Regions from separate parts of the Homo sapiens genome. Here region 2 is linked to region 1. Evidence: fine-mapped expression QTL. A gene starts in region 1. The other region holds a variant in brackets. All regions are shown on one strand. Distances are from middle to middle.

Region 1 (2,912 bases):
TGGAGGATGAAGTGGGAGGACTGCTTGAGGCCAGTTCAAGACCAGCTGGGCATCATAGTGAGACCCTTGTCTCTACAGAAAATTAAAAAATTAGCCAGGTGTGGTGGTGCCCACCTGTAGTCCCAGCTATTCAGGAGCCCAGGAGTTCCAAGTTACAGTGAGCTGTGATCTCCCCAGGCACTCCAGACTGGGCAACAGAGTGGACCTTGCCTCAAAAAGAGACAAAAAAAAAACAAAAAAAAAGAAAAACTCTCATATACCAAGGGTGAGAAGAGCAAATGGAACACGAACTTGACTCTGAAAAATAGTTTGACAATTTCTCTGTATATTTATATACTGATACCTATATCACACACATAGATTCACACAGGCATTTCCTTTCTCTCATTCTTCTAATATAGGAAGTTTGGTTGGATTTATATTTACAGTTCAGCATTGCCATGACTTTGCACATACTATTCGCGGTTGGCACACGTAGTATAACGTGATCTCCTTCTTAACCTTTCTTTCTTTTGTTTTTTTTTTGAGATGGAGTTTTGCTCCTGTTGCCCAGGCTGGAGTGCAATGACGCCATCTTGGCCCACAGCAACCTCCGCCTCCCGGGTTCAAGCGATTCTCCTGCCTCAGCCTCCCGAGTAGCTGGGATTACAGGCATGCGCCACCATGCCTGGCTAATTTTGTATTTTTAGTAGAGACAGGGTTTCTCCATGTTGGTCAGGCTGGTCTCGAACTCCCGCTCTCAGGTGATCCGCCCACCTCGGCCTCCCAAAGTGCTGGGATTACAGGCGTGAGCCACCGCGCCCGGCCTCTTTCCCAACCTTTTTTTTCTCACTGAAGTGGTCCTGTTCCCTTAATTTCTGGCCACTTCTCCTGAGTCCAGCCCTCATATTTGGCTCCACCTGGGTCCCAGGCTCTCCCCTCCGCCTTGGGAACTATACTTTCTGGCTTTTACTGGCTTTTCCCCATGCCTTTCACCCAACATAATTTTGGCACGTTCCAACCGTTTTCATTACCTAGTCTGTGACTGCTACCCCTGTTCCGTCAGCGTAGCTAACAGCCCTCTTCTGCGTTCAAAAGGCGCTTCAAGCTACTTTGTTAGAAATCTGGCTTTGGCCGAAGTGTCCCCTCTCGGCCGGTTCTCCTTTTCCCTCACAAGGAACTGTTTCCTAACCTTTGTACAAAGTGTAAACGTCGCGGCCATCTTAGCCTTCTATTCAGCTGCTGAAAGGGATTTACCTCCACGCCATTTTTGTCTTGTGTAAACTGGAGCCTCTGTATATGGACCCGTATTTATGAAGGGTTGAGGTGCCAGGAAATGGGACAGTTTCAGTGCTCTTTCATCTTCCCGGCCATCCCCGGTCACCCCCGGTCACCCCCGGTCACCAGCGCCAAAACGCGCCCTTTGCCTTGTGTACGTCAGATACTCAAAGATGGCGGCCCCCATGGAGCCAAGGCGACGAGGGCGCGGCCATCTTGCATCTGCGCAAACGCTGGGAACGCCTCCGACCCTGGATAGTCGCCGTCAGGCACTGAGGAGGCCGAGAGATGAGGCCGGAGCCCACCAAGTTCTGGGAAGTAAGTTCAGTCACTGGGTGGTCGCTGTGGTGACGGGGGAGGAAATTCTGTCCGTGGCTGGGCGTGTTCGTGGACAGTGGTGATGGACTGGTATCTGTCGGCGCCAGCGTTTGGCGACGCCAGTGGAATTCTTTCAGGAGCTTAGCGTGGGTCCGATTCCTATCGCAGGGGAACTACAAGAGGTCCGTGATAGGGTGTGTGTGTGTGTGATCGGGGTACCTCTGGGACCAGTCACAGGGTCCTCGTGTAGTTTGTGGTTAAAGATCTCTAGAGATCCGCTACTGAGTGCCCAAGTCACATTCTGGTGTCTTTGGTGTTGTCCTTTGGCGGGGCTCAGTGATTGCGAACTGGAGGGTTTGTTTTGTCAGCGAATCGGTTTATGGTTCAGGTTTTGTTTGGGACTAAATGATTGAGGAACTGTCTTGGGGGTTAAGGTACGGAGGTTTCTGATCCAGGTTTTGGAATTAATCCCGGTGGCGGTGGTGGTAGCGCCACAGATTCCGATGTGGGCTGCAGCTCTGGAGGCCTGGGAACCATGGCAGGTGATGGGTTAGCCCCAGCCCTGGCTGCTGGAACAGAATTGATGCTCATTAGCATTCCCCTTCTGCCCAAGACCCTTCTCCACGACTGGTTTTTAAATCCCCTTTGGCACCTTCCATCACCCCTTGGTCTTGAATCCTCAGAAATGGAAGTTTTTGGCGAGATCAGTCATCTAGCATACCTAAAAGTAGTATGTTTTATATTTAAGATGCGGCTTCTACCCTTTGTCCTGCAAGTTTCCAGCGTATCCTCTTGGATATTTCTTTTCAGGTTCTTTCTGACACAAGTAAGATAACATCTCTGCCATGGTAAGCTCGGTTACTCAAAGATAACCTTTGTCAAATTTTCAGAATATTTCAATTTTAGACGTGTATGTTATGTGCTTAATATTCATAATTCAGATAAATTATGTAAATGGTACTATTATCTTTTTCGCTTTATATTATGTAATAAACATTTAGAAGTTGTTTTTACTGTTTGAGCCGGTGGTACTATAAGTGCATTCACATTAAGTTTATGCGTACATTTGGATAGAAGTGAAATGTTTTAAAATGTTTAGGTATTATTTTTAGGAACATTTTATGATTATCCATTTATCCATGAATTTTGTTTTTCCTGCCTTTAATCTTCAATCTAGACTATTACTTTTATTGCAGTGTATTGCTTTCTGACTCCCCTTTCCTTATAATCTATAACAAAAGATAAATTAATTTTAAATATTTATTTTATATTTGGTCATCTTAATTCTTAGTATTACAATATTTTTCTCTCTGCCTAACATATTATTTTGTGAAAAT
Region 2 (2,912 bases), 280 kb after region 1:
TTCCTATGCCTGTCTTTACTTTAATCTCTTAATCCTGTCAACTGAGGAGGATGTATATCGCCTCAGGACCCTGTAATAATTGCATTAACTGCACAAATTGTAGATCATGTGTGTTTGAGCAATATGAAATGTGGGCACCTTGAAAAAAGAACGGGATAACAGCAGTTGTTCAGGGAATAAGAGAGATAATCTTAAACTCTGACCGCTGGTGAGCCAGGCAGAACAGAGCCATATTTCTCTTCTTTCAAAAGCAAATGGGAGAAATATCGCTGAATTCTTTTTCTCAGCATGGAACATCCCTGGGAAAGAGAATACGCGCCTGGAGGTATAGGCTTATAAATATCCCCCCCAGGTGCTCCTGTCTCTTATGGTCGAGACTGCAGGGGTGAAATAGACTCCAGTCTCCCATAGCGCTCGCTCCCAGGCTTATTTGGAAGAGCAAATTCCCTCCTAATAAATTTTGATCAGACCAGTTGATCTCAAAACCCTGTCTCCTGATAAGATGTTATCAATGACAATGGTGCCTGAAACTTCATTAGCAATTTTAATTTTGCCTCGGTCCTGCGGTCCTGTGATCTCGCCCTGCCTCCACTTGCCTTGTGATATTCTATTACCTTGTAAAGTACGTGACCTCTGTGACCCACACCTATTCGCACGCTCCCTCCCCTTTTGAAAATCCCTAATAAAAACTTGCTGGTTTTTGTGGCTTGTGGGGCATCACGGAACCTACCGACATGTGATGTCTCCCCCGGACACCCAGCTTTAAAATTTCCCTCTTTTGTACTCTGTCCCTTTATTTCTCAAGCTGGCCAACGCTTAAGGAAAATAGAAAAGAACCTACATGAATATCGGGGCAGATTCCCTGATAGCTCGGAACGCAGTAGAGCTGAGAATCTAGGGGTCCAGGCCTCATCTTGAGCCCACTGGATGCCAGCCCCCCCACCCCCTCCTCCCTCAGACCCAGGAGTCCAGGTCCAGCCCCTTCTCCCTCAGACCCCAGAGTCTAGGCCCCCAGCCCCTCCTCCCTCAGACCCAGAAGTCCAGGTCCCAGGCCCTCCTCCCTCAGATCCAGGAGTTCAGGTCCAGCCCCTCCTCCCTTAGTCCCGGGAGTCCAGGTCCAGCCCCTCCTTCCTCAGACCAGGGAATTCAGATCCCAGCCGCTCCTCCCTCAGACTCAGGAATCCAGGCTCTCAGATCTTAGTCTAAGCCCCCAGCTCCTCCTTCCTCTGTGACTGGCAGGGCATAGCCTAGTGACCTAATGCCTACCACCTGATTT[CTG/G]TTACCCAGCCATGCTGCCTGTGTGCTGTATCACTTGTCCCAGGAAATGACTCTTCTTGTGCCTCAGTTTCCCTATCTGGAAAATGGGTCTCCTCCTCTCTTGCTTCCCTGGAGAGGATAAACAGCTTTTGCAAAAGGAAGCCCCTCCCTCCCTCTCCCTCTGTCTGGCTCTTACTGTCTCTGTTTCTCTCCAGGGAAAGTGGCAGGAGAGATGGTGCATGCTGGGGTAGAAAGTGCCTTCAACTTGTTACAGGCAGGGCTCTCCCCCTCCAGGCCTTTCTCTCCCTCCTCCCAGCTCTGGAAGTCCTACAGTTTCTCCCAGAGGCACTAGCTGGAGGCAGAAGGTGGATGTACAGTCATCATTGCTGGCTAGGCTCCCTCCCTCCCTCCCTGGATTTCGGCAGAATCATGGAAGCCTAGGGGTTTCCCAGAATAGGCATGTGGGGGAGAAAAGGTCCCGTCTAACTCCAGCCCATCCAAGGTTCTGAGTTCCTGGAAGTCCAGAGGCAGTCTCTTTACAGACTTGGGGTCTTTGCTGATCCTGGAGTCTTTTTCCTCTAAGGTCCCACCTCCCCGGAGCTCCTCAACCCATCCTCCCAGGACTGGCCACTCTGAGTGGTGTCCATAGAACTATTACGCAGGAGTCGGTTGGGGGTCCCAGCTGCTAGGCCCTCTCTCCCCAACTTCTCTCCTCCCCCTCTTGCCTATCCTTCCCTCTCTCTCTCCCTCCTCCATTCTCCTCCTCCTCTTCTGATCTTCCTCCCCCTCCTTCTCTCTTTCCCTCCCTCCTCCTCTCCTTCCTCCTTCTTCCCTTATCTTTCCTTCCCCTCCTTCCTTCCTCTCCATTTTTTTTTCCCCCAGACAGAGTCGCTTTGTCGCCTAGGCTGGAGTGCAGTGGCGTGATCTCGGCTCATTGCAAACTCCACCTCCCGGGTTCAAGCGATTCTCCTGCCTCAGCCTCCTGAGTAGCTGGGACTACAGGCATGCACCACCACGCCCACCTAATTTTTGTGTTTTTAGTAGAGACGGGGTTTCACCATGTCAGCTAGGCTAGTCTTGAACTCCTGACCTCAAGTGCTCCACCTGCCTTGGCCTCCCAAAGTGCTGGGATTACAGGCGTGAGCCACCGTGCCCGGTCGCTCTCCTTTTTCTTTCCCCTCTCCATCTACCAATCTGACTTTCTATCCTGACCTCACACATTGTTCAACACATATTTGTTGAGCACCTACCTAGACACAGGTCCAGGCTCTGAGGAATGAGCCATGAACAAACCAGATAAAGACAGCTGCCTGTCTAGAGCTTGCATTCGAACCAGGAAGACACACATTACACAAAAAAGATACTAAACGTACCTTATGCAGGTTATACGTTATATAGGAAGGGGACCAATGCTATGGGGAAAAAGAAAAAGCAGAAGAGAGTAAAGGGGGTCAGGAATCCAGGGGTAGGGCAGTTTTTCGCTGTTGAATAGATGGTCGTGGAAGCCAGCTTCTGTCTTTCATTCCTCTCCCTCCCTCCTTTTCTCCTCTGTCTCTCGGTATCTAGATCCCCGCAGTGTGCATTTCCCTTCCCAATCCAGGACACCTGGCAAAGAAACCATCTACCGGGATTCAAGCATTTAATAAAACAAGGAT

Evidence for each region. PIP is the estimated chance that this variant, and not a neighbour inherited with it, causes the effect. A credible set is the group of variants that fine-mapping cannot tell apart.
Region 2: its variant is the best candidate, but not a certain one, in a credible set for the expression of ZNF615 in whole blood (INTERVAL, PIP 0.59).

What each region holds. Positions count from the first base shown.
Region 1 is chr19:52,006,804-52,009,715 of GRCh38, reverse strand. It overlaps ZNF615 (zinc finger protein 615), which reads left to right and starts at 1,505. Exons shown (of 7, transcript NM_001199324.2): 1 at 1,505-1,575; 2 at 2,386-2,423. LOC124904755 (a long non-coding RNA gene) reads right to left here and starts at 1,418. Exons shown (of 2, transcript XR_007067321.1): 1 at 1,237-1,418. RefSeq lists enhancers at 995-1,074, 1,135-1,744.
Region 2 is chr19:51,728,694-51,731,605 of GRCh38, reverse strand. No RefSeq gene overlaps it. Among named protein-coding and RNA genes, the nearest start is that of HAS1, 6.2 kb to the right of the region's middle. The variant CTG/G (reference allele first, on the strand shown) is at 1,277.